Linked DNA regions of Homo sapiens: region 1 is linked to region 2. Evidence: fine-mapped expression QTL. A gene starts in region 2. The other region holds a variant in brackets. All regions are shown on one strand. Distances are between the middles of the regions. Region 1 overlaps RNF150 (ring finger protein 150). Region 2 holds the start of RNF150 (ring finger protein 150).

Evidence for each region. PIP is the estimated chance that this variant, and not a neighbour inherited with it, causes the effect.
Region 1: its variant is fine-mapped to the expression of RNF150 in subcutaneous fat (TwinsUK, PIP 0.95).

Annotation. Positions count from the first base shown.
Region 1 is chr4:140,875,442-140,883,441 of GRCh38, reverse strand. All of the region lies in intron 6 of RNF150 (ring finger protein 150), which reads left to right. Among named protein-coding and RNA genes, the nearest start is that of TBC1D9, 120 kb to the right of the region's middle. The variant A/G (reference allele first, on the strand shown) is at 3,118.
Region 2 is chr4:141,129,096-141,137,095 of GRCh38, reverse strand. It overlaps RNF150 (ring finger protein 150), which reads left to right and starts at 3,627. Exons shown (of 7, transcript NM_020724.2): 1 at 3,627-4,771. The coding sequence starts at 4,288. RefSeq lists a silencer at 3,689-3,808.

The sequences.
Region 1 (8,000 bases), 250 kb after region 2:
CTAAAGTGAGTTCTTTAAGTTGAAACAAAAGAACATTAGATAGTAACACAAAAGCTTACGGCACCATGAAGCTCAGTGGCAAAAGTAAATATGTAGACAAATACACAATACTGTGATAGGGTGGTGCATAAATACTGTAATGGTGGTACATAAATCACTTTTAATTCTGGTATAGAATTTAAAGGACAAAGGTGAAAAAAACTACTTTAATGGATGTAAAATATACTAAAGATATAATTTATAACATCAGTAACTTAGTGTAGAAGGGAATATATAAGAGTAGAGTTTTTATATGTGGCATTATCTGCTTAAAATAGATTATTATAACTCTGACATGTTTTATGTCATCTCTATAGTAACCACAAAGAAAATACTCAAAAAAGTACACAAAAGATAAATGAGAAACAAATCAAAGTATATAGCACTACAAAAAAAAATGAACAAAACTAACAAGAAGGCAGCAAGAGAGGGAAAAAGAGAGATAACTACAACATAGAAAATGATAAAATGAAAATAATAAGTACTTCCCTATCAGTAATTACTTTAACTGTGAATAAACTCTCAGATCAAAAGACTAAATAAATGAAAAACAAAAGGTAACTATATGCCGTCTACAAGGCAGTCACTTTAGATTTAAGGACATACCTGAGCTAAAGGGAAAAGATGAAAAAAGATGTTCCATGTAAATGGTAACCAGAGAGAACAGAGGTGCTCATATCAGAAAAAATTAGACTAAGTAAACAACTGTCACAAGAGACAAAGAATGTCATTATATAATGATTAAAAGGTTAATTATTCAGAAAGATATAACAATTATTAATATATATTTACCTAACAGAGCACCCAAATATATGAAGTAAACATGTACAGAATTTAAAGGGAAAATAGTAACACAATAAGAGTAAGAGATTTCAATACCCCATTTTCAAAAATAGATAGAAAACCAGACTGAGAACAATAGGCATAAGTAGAATAGAGCAACACTATAGATCAGTTGGATCAAACAGACATATACAGGACACTCCACCCAACAGTAGCAGAATACACATTTTTCTCAAATGCACATGAAACATTCTCAAGGATAGATCACATGTTAGGCCACAAAACAAGTCTTAAGAAATTTAAGAAGATTGAGTGGCTCACACCTGTAATCCCAGCACTCTGGGAGGCCGAGGCGGGTGGATCACGAGGTCAGCAGATCGAGACCATCCTGGCTAACATGGTGAAACCCCGTCTCTACTAAAAATACAAAAAATTAGCCGGGCGTAGTGGCGGGTGCCTGTAGTCCCAGCTACTCAGGAGGCTGAGGCAGAAGAATGGCGTGAACCTGGGAGGTGGAGCTTGCAGTGAGCCGAGATTGCACCACTGCACTCCAGCCTGGGCGACAGAGCAAGACTCCATCTCAAAAATAAAAATAAAAAAATTAAAAATAAAGAAAATTAAGAAGATTGAAATCATACGAAATATCTTTTCCAACCACAGTGAAATGAAACCAGAAATCAATAGCAAACTGGAAAGCTCATCAAAATGTAGAAATTAAACAACATCCTCTTTTTTTAAAGAGATGGAGTCTTGCTTTGTCACCCAGCCTAGAATGCAGTGACATGATCATAGCTCACTGCAGCCTGAAACTCCTGGGCTCATGATATCCTCCCACCTCAACCTCCTGAGTAGCTGGGACTGCAGGTACATGTCACTACACTTGGCTCTTTTGCTTTGTTTGGTTTTTCATAGAGACATAGTCTCATTATGTTGCCCAGCCTGGTCTCAAACTCCTGGGTTCAAGCAATCCTCCCACCTTGGCCTCCCAAAGGACTGAGTTTACAGGCATGAGCCCCCATGCCCAACCAACACTCTCTTGTATAACCAGTGGGTCAAAGAAGAAATCACAAGATAAACTGGAAAACGTCTTGAGACAAATGAAAACAAAAAGGTAATGTACCAAGACTTATGGGAGGCAACAAAAGAAGTACAAAGGGGCCAGGTGTGGTGGCTCATGCTTGTAATCCCAGCAGATTGGGAGGCTGAGGCAGATGGATCCCTTGAGCTCACAAGTTTGAGACCAGCCTGGGCAAAATGGTGAAACCTCATTTCTACAAAAAAATACAAAAATTATCCAGATGTGATAATGTATGCCTCTAGTCCCAGCTACTTGAGAGGCTGAAGTGTGAGGATGGCTTGAGCCCAGGAGGTGGAGGCTGCAGTGAGCCAAGATCATGCCACTGCATTCCAGCCTGTGCCATACAGCTAGACCTTGTCTTAAAAAAAAAAAAAAGTACAAAGGAAAGTTTATATCAATAAATGACTACATTAAAAAAGAAAGATCTCAAAGAACCAAACTTTATACCTCAAGGAACTAGAGAAAAGAAAACAAACCAAATTCAAAATTAGCAGAATTTCAAGGGAATAATAAAGATTAGAGCAGATATAAATGAAATAGAGAATAGAAAGACAATGGAATAAAGCAACCAAACTTAGAATTTGTGTTTTGAAAGGATCAACCAAATTGACAGATCCTTAGCTAGACTAATTAAAATAAAGAGAAGACTTGAATAAATAGTTAGACATTAAAGAGGAGACATTACAACTAATGCCAAAGAAATAAAAAATATTATGAGACTACTGTGAATAACCTAGAAGAAATGTATAAATGTAGAAATTCCTAGACAAATGCAATCTGTTATGACTGAATCATGAAGAAATAGGAAATTTCAACCAACCTATCACTAGTAAGGTGATTGAACCAGTAATAAAAAGACCTTTTGTTTAAAACAAACAAACAAACAAACAAACAAAAAAAAACCCAGGACCAGATGGCTTTACTGGAGAATTATCCCAAACATTTAAAAAAGAATTTATGACAGTTCTTCTCAAACTCTTCCAAAAAAAAAAAAGACTGGAGAGGAGGGGACACTTCTAAACTATTTTATGAGGCCTGTATTACCATAATACCAAATCCAGACAAAGATACTACAAGAAAAGAAAATTACAGACCAATATAACCAATAAATATTGATGCAAAAATCTTTGACAAAATATGAGGAAATCAATTTAAACAGTACATTAAAAGATTATATACCATGACCAAGTGGGATTTATCCCTGGAATGCAAGGATG[A/G]TTCAGTATACAAAAAAAAATCAGTCAGTGTAATACACCACATTAACAGAACAAAGAATGAAAATCACATGATTATCTCAACTGATGCAGAAAATGCATTTGAAAAAATTCAACATGCTTTTATAATAAAAATATTCAACAAACTAGGAATAAAAGAATTCCCTCAACATAAGAAAGGTCAAGTATGAAAAGTCTATAGCTAACATCATTCTAGATGGTGAAAAACTGAAAGCTTTCTTCCAAGATCAGGAACAAGACAAGAATGCTCACTCTTACCACTTCTATTAAACACAGTACTGGAAGTCCTAGTCAGAGCAATTAGGAAAGAAAAAAATATATAAAAAGCATCCAATTTGGAAAGGAGGAAATAAAATTATCTCTGTTCACAAAATGACATGATCTTATATGTAGAAAACTTTAAAGATTCCACATTTCAAATGCTCTTAAAACTAATAAACTATTCAGCAAAGTCAAAGTTTCTAGGTGCAAATTTTTTTTTTCTTTTTGAGACAGGATTTTGCTCTGCCACACAGGATGGAGTACAATGGCACAATCACAGCTCACTGGAGCCTCAACCTGGGCTCAAGTAATCCTGCCAGCTTAGCCTCCCAAATAGCTGGGTCCACAGACATGTGCCACCATGCCAGGCTAGTTTTTTTTCATCTGTAGAGACATGATCTTGCTATGTTGCCCAGGCTGGTCTTGAACTCCTGGACTCAAGTGATCCTTCTGCCTCAGCCTCCCAAAGTGCAGGGTACAAAATTAACATAAAAGATTAGTTGAATTTCTGAACAGTAACAATATGAAAGGAAATTAAGAAAACAGTTCCATTTATGATAGCATCAAAAAAGTAAAATACTTAGGAATAAACTTAATGAACAAGGTGAAAGACTTGTACACTGAAAACTTAAAACATTGCTTAAAAAAGTTAAGACATAAATAAATGGAAAGATATCACATGTTCACGGATTGGAAGACAATGTTGTTAAAATGTCCATACTACCCAAAGCAATCTGTAAATTCAATGGAATCTTTATCAAAATCCCAATGGCATTTTTTTTGTGTGGAAACAGAAAAACAGTCCTAAAACTCATATTTACTCCAAATAGCCAAAACAATCATGAGAAAGAAGAACAAAATTGAAGGCCTCACACTTCCTAATTTCAAAACATATTACAGAGTGATGGTAATCAAAACAATATGGTACTGGCATAAAGACAGACATGTAGACCAATAAAACAGAATAGAGATCCTCATGTATATGGTCAAATAATCCTCAACAGTGAGCCAAGACTACATAGTGGTGGAAGGATAGTGTCAAAAAATGGTGTGGAGAAAAGTGGAGGTCCACATTGCAAAAGAAAGTAATTGGACCCTTATCTTAGAGCGTAAGCATACAAAAAAATCACTCAAACTGAATTAAATACCTAAATCTAAGACCTGAAACTGTAAAACTCCTAGAGGAAAACAGGAGGGGGAAAGCTTCATGGCATTGTATTTGGTAAGGATTTCTTGGAAATGACACCAAATGCACAGGCAACAAAAACAAAAATAGACAAATTGGACTACATTACACTAAAATCTTCTGCACAGTAAACAGTCAACAGAGTGAAAAGACAAGCTACAGAATGAGAGAAAATATTTGCAAACCATATATTTGATAAGGTGTTAATATCCAGGATACACAAAGAACTCCTACAACTCAAATTACAGAATAAATAACCCTATTGAAAAATAGGCAAAGGACTTGAATAGATAATTTTCCTAAGAAGAAGTACAAATGGCCAACAAGCATAAAAAAGATACTTAACATCACCGATCATCAGGGAAATGTGAATCAAAACCACAATGAGGCCAGGCACAGTGGTTTACGCCTGTAATCCCAGCACTTTGGGAGGCCAAGGGCAGGTGAATCAACTTGAGACCAGGAGGTTGAGATCAGCCTGGCTGATATGGTAAAACCCCATCTCTACTACAAGTACAAAAATTAGCTGGGCATGGTGGTGCATACCTGTAATCCCAGCTACTCAGGAGGCTGAGGCACAAGAATTGCTTGAGCCTGGGAGGCAAAGGTTGAGTGAGGTAAGCCAAGATTGTGCCACTGCACTCCAGCCTGGGTGATAAAACAAGATTCTGTTGAAAAAAAAAAAAAAAAAAAAACACAATGAGATATCACCTTAACCTGTTAGGATGACTAATATTAAAAATAAATAAATAAAATTTAAAAATAAACACAAAATAGTAAGTGTTGATGGGGATATAGAGAATCTTTCTCCCTCTGATCTCATTGAAACCACAGCCAACACTTCAGGAGCCACAGTGACCTGTCTGAACCATTCCACATCCTTCATACACTAAGCCACAGGCAAGTCAAACCATCCACATGCCTTGAAATTTGCTTTGATGATTGCTATAGTCATGCTGGCCCTTCTGGAAGGAATTCCATTTCCCCTTACCTCCATACTTCCCAATACTAATTAGATCCTCACTGCCAGCCTACATGTAACCTACTTCATGAATCCTCTTGGTTACCCACTTAGAGGTGATATTTTCCCCACACCTTTGTTTCCTTAACATTTTATTTACACCTCTCTTTTAGCATATGTCACCTTGTATTACATTTCTATGGATACAAATCTGATCTCTTTTAGTAGATCAAATTCAGCTTAAAGTCAGAGCCTGTATTTAGGTCATCTTTCTTTTCTCCACACTGCTCATCAGCAGTGCTGTGTACCTAATACATGTTCAATAAACATCTGTTGAATAAAGATTAAGTGAATTGTTGAATGAATAAATGGGGTCTATAGATAATTTTATACGGTTGCAGAAATGGATAAATATGTATGAACTCTGCCTATCTCTCTAAATCCATTTGGCAACTTTCTCTTTTACACTCCTTTTTCATACCAATCATATTTACATTCATCAAAAGTCTTTCATCTACCAGATATTATGCTTAATGTTTAAGGTTCTCAATAGGTGGTACTAATTGGGCATTGTAAAAAAAAACTGTTGACAACACAATGTGCACTAGATTTTGTCTCCTTCCCTGCAAAAACAAATGTAAAACTAATGTAAAAATCACTTTGCCTCTTCTTTTGGCACTTAGCAAGGAATGACTCAATGAATGAACTGCCAAGGAAATCAGTAAGGAATTTGAGCAGTTGGAGAAAATCTTTCCCCTGCTAGATGAAGTGTCACAGGGAAAGAAAACCAACAGCAAAGAGATAAAAGCAAAGTGAAATCCTAACTATGTGATCTAATTTAATATACAGGCTTCTAATTTAATATACAGGGAATTCTCCTTCACCAAATCCAAATGAAAACAATGTTTTAAACTTCCCCATCTGAAAGGTGAGAAAGAATTTTCCTAATTTGACCGCAAGATGTATATATTTGCAATTATGGAACAGGAATTGAAAAGGCAAAACTGTCAGTTATATCTGAACAATTCTAGAAGTCACTTGGCCAAATGGATGAATTTGTATCATAAGCCTGCTGGGTTTCCAAATGTGGCTGAGTCTTGTCTGTAAGAGCAACATAGCAGCCAAATAGAACTCTAGTAGCTCTGCCATTCCAGAATAGTACAACTGTCAATTTCACTGACTTGGGTTGAGATCCCACTTCTTCCATCTTCTATGTGCTCACCCTCACCTATAACATGTGAAGCCATCATAGCGGTATTATTGTGAGGGTGACGTGTGATATATTTAATGGCATAGCAAAATGCCTGGCATGTAGGAAGGAGCCAGTCTATCCTAGCTATTAGTATCCACCCTATTGCATACCCTCTGAGGAAAGCGGTCCAGAGACCTTGCCATTCTCACATCAGAGGCCACTCATAAATGGGAAAACATAAACCAAGTGGGAAGTAGTTTATCTCCTTAGAAATTCTTGCTAAGGCAAAGAATTCAAAGGAACACATTTCCTTATTGCAAACACGCTGCATTTAAAGTCTAATTAACTTTCCCACTAACATAATGACAGGCTATATAGACACTGCCCCAGCCTGAAGGGAGTTTCACATTCTGAGATGAAAAGACAGCAACATTATAATTCAACCAATGTGGTTGAAAGTGCCTTCCCTATAGTGCTCTTGTACAATACAGGGTTGATTGGAAATTATGCCCTATTTTCAAGAAGATAAGCATCAGCAGCAGTGGACAGAAGGATGCCATTTTTCTTTGAAACCTTACTTTTCAAGTACATGAGGAAAAATAAGCTTTTGTGTAATGCAGAGCAACTCCCAGCATGCAAACACCAGACCTCCTGGAGAATAGGCCACCTGGGGGATTATATTAACCACCACCTTATTTTCTCTCAAAACAGAGAGCACTTATTCTGAGGGCAATGTTTGTTAATTCCTAACAGAGGAGGACTTATGCCAGCCTGCTACTGGTCTGTGCCTTCTTTCATAAGACAGGCAGTAGAGTGAGTAAATAAACCTCATTCAGGGAAGGATAGTTTTCTGCTTTAGCTTTGAATAACCACCATAAAGAAACAATTAAGTAGGAAAGCAGTGACTTCATGTGAAAACTATCATGTCAAGTTAATAGAACACATAGCTAGTGGAATGTAAACCAAAATATGCATTAAAAAAAAACACAAACAAAACCAAGCCATTCTGTTGCTTACTGTAATGTGTTATCCAACTCACCAGGGATGCAAAATCATTTAAGTGAACGGTTCTTAGCCTTTCGTGAGTTTGAGAATCTGATGAAAACTACCAGGAAAAGGCCTATATGTAGCTATAAATGTGTGTATGTAATTTTAAATGCCTAATCCCCCAGCCCCACCCTGCAAATCACTAATCCTTAAGTTAAGAATCTCAACTCAAGAACAGATTATGGGCCAGGTATGGTGGCTCACCCCTGTAATCCTGG
Region 2 (8,000 bases):
TGGTTTCTTTGCTGTTTTTCTGCATATCAAATACAATCTTGCCTCAGATTGTACTTGTACTCATACACTTGTACTCATGTACTTGCCTCAGATTGTACTTATACTCAGATTGTACTTGTACTTTTCCTGGTAAAACCAGTCCCCCAAATAGCCACATAGAATCCTTATTTCTTTCAATATTCTGTTCAAAAGTCACCTCACAAAGCAGCTGACCCTGACAGAAAATACCTTATGTGACATAGGTTACCCTTCCATACTCTGTTGCCTTTTTCTTCATAGCAGATGTCATTATCTGACATAATCTAAAGCTTTTTAGAAATTTCTGTTTTTTTCCAACTCCAGAATATAAACTCCATGAGAGCAAGAATCTTATCTGTTTTGTTTCAGTTGGATGCCCAGTGCCTGTAACACCAATGCGTTAACAGGTGCTCGATAATTATTGTTGGATGAAGAAATGAAATACAGAGATGTTTTTATCTACAACAGTATTATATATTTGGGGGGTGGTATAGCAAGCGCTCATTGCTCTCCCCAAATACCACTTGTCAGTTGTTCAAGAAGTGCCACTGGAAAAAAGAGTAGCAGGGTTGCCAGAAAATCATTAGCACAAAGCTGGAAACATATTAATGTCCCCTCAAAAACTGAACTTTTGACTTATTAAAAATATCATGAATTGGGCTCAAATTCTCTGAAAGTGTAGCTAGTGGAAACCAATATGTCATAGATAATCATTTTTTTTTCTGAACCATTTAAGAGTAAGTTGCAGAAAGAATGTCTCATCACTGCTAAATTCTTCAATGTACATAGCCCCCCAACCACAGACATTCTTCTACAAAACTACAATATAAATATCCAAGTCAGGAATTCACCATTGATAAAATATACCATCCAATCTACCAATTTCACTGAATTTTTGCCAAGTGTTTATTTTTCCTTTCTGGTCTAGGAGCCAATCTGGGATATTTATTGTACGTAATTGTCACATCTCTTAAATCTCTTCAATTTGGATCAGTTCTTCTGTTTTTCTCTGTCTCTCATAAGTTTAAGAGTTTTAAAGAATATAAACTTTTCATTTTGAAGGTTGCCTCTCATCCTGGGTTTATCCATTGTTTCCTTATGTCTAGACCATGCCGTGTATTGTTCTTTTCAGGAACATGACAGAAATGACACTGTAATTCCAGTGCATTTCATAAGGAGGTACATGATAGGACTCATTCTACAAATGGTGATGTTCACCATGATCACCTGCTCAACTTGGTGTCTTCCAGGTTCCTCTTCAATAAATTCACCATTTATTGAATTAATAAGTATTTTTCAGAAGATACTTCAAGACTAGGCTAATATCCTGCTTCACATCAAACACCTACTCATCAGCCTTAGTATCCATTGATGACTCCTGCCTAAATCAAACAACACTCTTGTCAAATGGTGACTTTCTATATCCATTAATCCTTATCAGTAGGTATTTCTACCATAAGGAAGAGCTGTTCCTCCCTATTTATTTACTCCATCATTTTTCTGTATTAACATTAGCACGGATTCATGCCTTATTAGATAGGTTGTAATCAGTTACTAGGATCATTTATTTTATGTTCAGACTGTCCCAGATTTGGCCAGTGGGAGCCCTTTCCAGCTGGCTCTTCTGTCTTTTTGACATACTCCCATCATGCTTGGAGCATTTCCTTTCAAGAGGTTATGGGCTCACTCTGTACTTTCCCAGTGTCAGCCCTATAATCAGCCAGCTTGCTTTTCGTGGAGGATGCTATTTAGAAACGAAGATCTTCTGGCCACTGGATGTGCCTTTTGCTTTTGGCCTCTGAATGGAGAGAGCTATGGTATATATGTGTGCACACACATAAATATATATACATATAGTTTTTGAAAAATTATTTCATACTCATTGTTAATCCACCCTAAAGCCTCAAGGTTATTTACAGCTCTCTTTCTTTCCATATTTGTAAATTCCTTCTCCAACAGTAAGAAACCTCGCTCCTATTTTACTCAGTGTTTTACTTATTAGCCCAATGGCCCTGTAATTAAGCAATCTTCCAGCCATGCTATTTCCTTGACCCTGTCATCTCTTTAGCACCTAACTTTTCCAAAGGAAAGAAGGGGTAAGGGATAGTCACACATTCTTAATAACATAGCTTCTCCAAGTCTTCCAGCTGGAGAAAAAAAATGCTAAGCGATAAAGAAGACTGGGGAAACACTGTGGGTTGCTAAAGGCAACTGCTCAGAACCTAGCCGGGGGTTTCTAGCAGTGGACTCCTCCCTCAGATCTCTGGTGGTTCAGGAACCAGCAGCCAGGTGTCTCCACTTTTGCCTCCTTGGCAGTAAGCGCTATAAAAAGCACTGTCCCAATTGCCTAGAAGCCTATTTTCTAAAATGAATAAGCTAGGAACACATACAAATTCAGCACATCAAATGCCATAGAGACAAATTCTTCTAAGTAGTTCTTCTTGTGCCTGCTTCTAATTTGGGTACAGCTGAGGCTCTTTGCCCTCCCTTAACAGCCATCAGCTGTTTGTACTGCTGCCGGAAAAAGAGAAGTTGTACTGGTGGACGTTCATTAACGAAGAGCTGTAAACATGCTAAAGTCCTGGGGAAAAGGCAGCCTTTCATTTTTTAAATTTAAATCATGAATGGGTCCTGGGTTCTCTGAAAGAGCATCAGGTGGGAAACACAATGTAAATGATAGAGAACCATCAAACAAATATTTTTAGAGACTATATGGCAGGCATCTCAAGCCAAGGGAAAGGATATCCACCACCAAAACGTCTAATTGGTAAGGCACTCTGCTGTACTACAGTTTTAAGAACACTACACTAGGGGGACTGTACTGTCTGCTGACTACTGTAATCTCTATGCACAGTTGGAGAGCGCACTATAAACAATAACCCAAACAAACCTCCCTTGCCTGTTGGTGCTGCGAGTCCCCTGTTCCCAGCCATGACAATCAGAATAAACACAGTCCAGAAATGTCTCACCCGGTTTCTCTTCTTACAGAGTGACAAAACACCTATTCTATAAGAAAACGAATGTTAGATGTTTGCTTCCAGGTGGGCAGTAGGAAGCCCATTGTTATACCCATCTTAACAGAATGGTTGTTAGACCAGCAGCATCAGCACCACCTGGGAACTTGTTAGAAATGCATATTTTTGGGGCCCTACCACAGATCTACTGAACCAGAAACTTTGTGGCAGGACCCATCGGTCTGAGTTTTAAAACTAAAGATTTGATAGCCACTGCCCTAGGTATTCCAGAGGTAGCTTTGGAAGGACCTCAATACCAAACCACCTTACACTTTGGCCTTAGGACAGGTAATCAGGGAGCTCACGGCAGTACTTCCAGCAAACGGGAGGGTCGTTTACGAGAGGCACATACATTTGCTAAATGTAACGCTCAGGAAGTTATTCCCGTACTCAAAGGTCGAGGGGTCGCTTCCTCTTTACCTCCACCTAGATTAAGTCGCCGATTGAGGTTGAATTTGAGACCCGACAGGGGTCGCTGCTGCCCATAAAGAGAGACCAAGGGAACATGGCAAGAGAATCCCAGGGGCTTTGACATCACACTAAGCTCCTCCTTGCACGCACACATTATACACACACACACACACACACACAAACATACAGACACACACACACGGACCGCTTACTCCGCTCTGCCTGCTCGCTCCCACTGTCCCCAAGCCCGCCCCGCCCGCGGCAAGTGCGTGCCCAGGCGCAGCCACCGGCGAGATCAGGAGCGCAGCGCCCGCAGCCTGAGGGAACCGGCGCAGGGCAGCAGCGGCTGCAGCTGGATTCGCGCGCCCCAGCGCTCAGTGGCGGCGGCCGGGACACCCTGGGCAGCACCCCGCACCGCAGCACCCCAGACTACGAGCAATCGTGCCCGTCCCCGCCGGGGCTGGAGGGCGCAGGGCCGCCACCCTGCAAGTTCGTGGGCCCCCGGCCACCCTTATGAGAGAAGGCGAAGCCGGGCGAAGGAGCAGGACGCTCGGCAGCAGGACTCCTCCGCAAGCCCCGCGGGCCCTCTGTTCCCGCGCCCCCCGGGCGCCCAAGAAGCAAAATGCAACCACCGCGCTACAGCTGAGAGGGGAAGGGGCCAGCGCCATCCGCTCGCCCGGAATCCGGTCCCCGCGGCGGCTGCGCGTCCCGGCCGCGGCCCCTCCGGCCCGGGAGTGAGCAGCAGCAGGAGGAGAGGCAGCGGCCCGGGGTTGGCCGGGGCTGGGGAGGAGGGACGGGACGGAGGGAGGGCGCGGGGGCGGGGAGGGGGCCCCGGCGGATAAAGATGGCAATGTCTCTCATCCAAGCGTGCTGCAGTCTGGCTCTCTCAACATGGCTGCTTTCCTTTTGTTTCGTGCATCTGCTCTGCCTGGACTTTACCGTGGCCGAGAAGGAGGAATGGTACACCGCCTTCGTGAACATCACCTACGCCGAGCCCGCGCCGGACCCCGGGGCCGGGGCGGCGGGCGGCGGCGGCGCGGAGCTGCACACGGAGAAGACGGAGTGCGGGCGCTACGGAGAGCACTCGCCCAAGCAGGACGCCCGCGGGGAGGTGGTCATGGCCAGCTCGGCCCACGACCGCCTGGCCTGCGACCCCAACACCAAGTTCGCCGCCCCGACCCGCGGCAAGAACTGGATAGCCCTCATCCCCAAGGGCAACTGCACGTACAGGGATAAGATCCGGAACGCGTTCCTGCAGAACGCCTCAGCCGTGGTCATCTTCAACGTGGGCTCCAACACCAACGAGACCATCACCATGCCCCACGCGGGTGAGTGGCCCAGCGGGCGCGGGGGAGGGGAGCCGGCGGGGACGGAGGTGCCTAGAGGGATCCAGCGCCTGCCTCCAGGCTCCTTCTGGGAAGTCCGTGCGGCGCGGAAGACGTGTCTGGGTTCCCTGGACCGATTAAGTTTTGCTCCGCGTCACTTGGGGGGTTTACAAAGAGGAGAAGATTAACTGTATTGGGTAGGGGAGAGGCTGCCGGAGAGCTTGGCATAGCGCCGCTTGGACAGGGGTTCAACGTGGCGGGCTAACTTTTCCGAGGGGGACCTGGAAGGTGGGGTTTGGAGGGTAGGGCTCAGATACTGTTCTTGGTTAGTGACCGGCCCAGCACCTGTTTGGAACCAGTAGATCTGATACCACAGCACTGCCCTTGGGTCTGTGCATCAGGTATACCCTGATGCAGGCGCTATATCAGGAGAGGGGTAGGGTTACCTGCTGGCAGCTCACCACCGCGAACTTGCACTTGGGAGAGTTTCCCCTTTTGGGTTTACGCACTTCATTAATCATATTAAAAGTACTATGCTCTGCCAGGCTGTCATCCAGAGAAACTGACAGGTGGCCACGATGGTAAATAATAACAATCCTCAACAAGCCAAGAAGAGTGTGATGGCCCTAAAGTTATAACTACTTTTCTAATTATTGCATTATCCTTTGCCTGATTGGGAGGTTAAATATGCTGAAGGTTTTCTTTCTGGCTAGAATGAAGGGATTTCAGACTAGAGAGAATAAGCTTTTGTTAATGATCGCAGGTACCAGGACTAGAAATGCATTACTGTCCCAAAACTCAATACCGCATATGCCTGACATAAGCAATGTTTCCCTGGTGGTAGGAACACCCTCCCCCCAAAAAAGCCATCCCCAGGCTTGTTAACATAAGTCCATAAGCCACTAGTTTTAGCAAGCTAGCCTCCTTATGTCAGAGCTTGCTGCTTGTATTTGTGTGCCTGAGAAGTGGGCCCTCCTTCCCCAAAGGGGTTTCTGGGCCGAGACTGTGGCATCCAGTGCCCGGAAGGAGGGGAGAAAATGACAGATGCATTTTCTGAGTGGAGTCTCCTAATCAAAAGCATTATTTTCTTTAAAAACCAAATTTGAATAAATAGTTACGCTGCTGAAATGGAACACCAAGCTCTGGCTACATTTGTAGGGGTGTTCTCTTTGGGGACAAGTTTCCATTCCGAGAGCTCATGTCACCTATTAGTGAAATATTCAATTGGTTTGCCTCCAGTAATCAACACCAGCTGTTTTAGTCAGGGAAATTTGTCAACCTTAACACAAACAGGTGGGGAGGGGAAATGTTCCAGACTTCTAAAACACAGGCCAGAAAAATGTAGTGTGTTAATTAATGAAGAGGAGGAGAGGCAATTACTTAGAAAAGTTACAATACAGCACTTTCAGAATATTCGATATATTTTCTTGAGCTCGACAGTTTTCTAAGGGAAAAGATTGTGCTCTCACCTTGAGTCTTAAGAGCACTACTGAAACTTTGATATTCAAGGATGTTAAGGACTATGGAAAGCACTGTAAGTCATGTAAAGCATCTTTAGATAAACATGTTACTTAATATTTAAAACCTCAGTGGAGGAGGGGTGAAGGAAGCTTTTTTGTTTTTGTTGTTCTTTAAACTCCAAGAAGATTGTTAGCTGACTTTGTGAGATTCTTTGTTTCTCTGTGCATATGCATGAAATCTTGAACTCAACTTCTTTGAACATAAAGTAAGAGGCATCATTTGTTCCTGTCTAAAAAGGTTCTCTAGAACTGCCAACACATTGGATCAATTAATGGCTTGCTTATTTTTAAAGAAAACACTAAGCAGATTTCCCACACAAATGATGCTTGATTAAGATAGTGGGAGTGGAAGTTTAGTAATACTGTAGTTTGAACGTTAAAGGAAAAAAAAAATTGGAAATTGTCTATTATCTAATTGTTCTGTTTCCAAAAATGTATTCATGCTGTATCTGCCAATGGCCAGGAAACTCCATATTATCTTCTGACATTTTGCCACATTAGGAGACTCTGTTCACTTCAGTCAGAGGCTAGCATTGATTTCTGCTAGAGTGTCATTATGAGCAGATACATGACAGGGTAGCATGGTAAACCCTTGACTATACTCTGAAATTCTTCTGCCTAAATCTCAAACACTGCCAGCTCTTGTCTGGCTGTCAGTGTCTTCCATGTAGTCCAGATCTTGAAAGCTTTACTTTTCCTAGTTAAATTTGAGGTCAGATTTCTGAATTCAGTTTGAGAAACTGCACATTTTAGATGCTAATCAAATATTTTTATTTTGTGAACTTGGGATACCATACCAGAAAATCTGCATATTTGTGAACTTTTAAATTCAGTTTTTAAAAAGTTTTAAAAACTGCAAAAGCTGATGATATATCTATCACCTTTCCTTAGATGCTTTATTTTTGGAACTGATAGATTTCAGGTGAGAAGGTCTGTATTTAGTGTTATGCAACCTGTCGTTTAACATCTATGCATTTGTGTATCTTGAAATTCAATTAAATAGAAATTGTTTTGTCCTTTTCATATACGTTTTCTGTTTTTTTCTTTTCCTGCTTAAATAATTTTGATTTTCTGCCACTTATGTAACTATAACTTCTCATTCAAAAAGACACCACTTCTCCTGGGATAGACCAGTAGTTTTGCTTTATAACAAGTCACTTTCCTCCCCAGTATAACAGCTTTACTGAAATATAAACATACTCTGCAGTTCACTCATTTAAAGTATGCATTTCAATGGCTTTTAGTGTATTGACTGAGTTGTGCAGCCATCATCACTATCTAGTTCTAATAAGAAACTCTTGTACTTCCCCAATATTCCCCAACTCCTAGTCACTCCCCATTATTCCCCAACTCCCAGCCCTAGGCTAATCTACATTCTGTCTTCATGTATTTAAATGCCTCTTTTGTACCTTTCATATAAATGGAATCATATAATATGTGGACTTCTGTGATTGGCCTCTTTGATTTAGCATAATCTTTCTAAGGTTCATCAAGGTTGTAGCATGCGTCAGTACTTAAACCCTTTTTATTGCCAAATAATATTTCGTTGTATGGATATATCACATTTTGTGTATTTATTCATCAACTGATGGAAAATTACGTTGTTTCTACCTTTTAATTGTTATGAAAAATAGTGCTATGAACATTCATGTACAAGTTTTTGTATGGACATTTCTCTTGATTATATACCTAGGAGTGGAACTTCTGAGTCA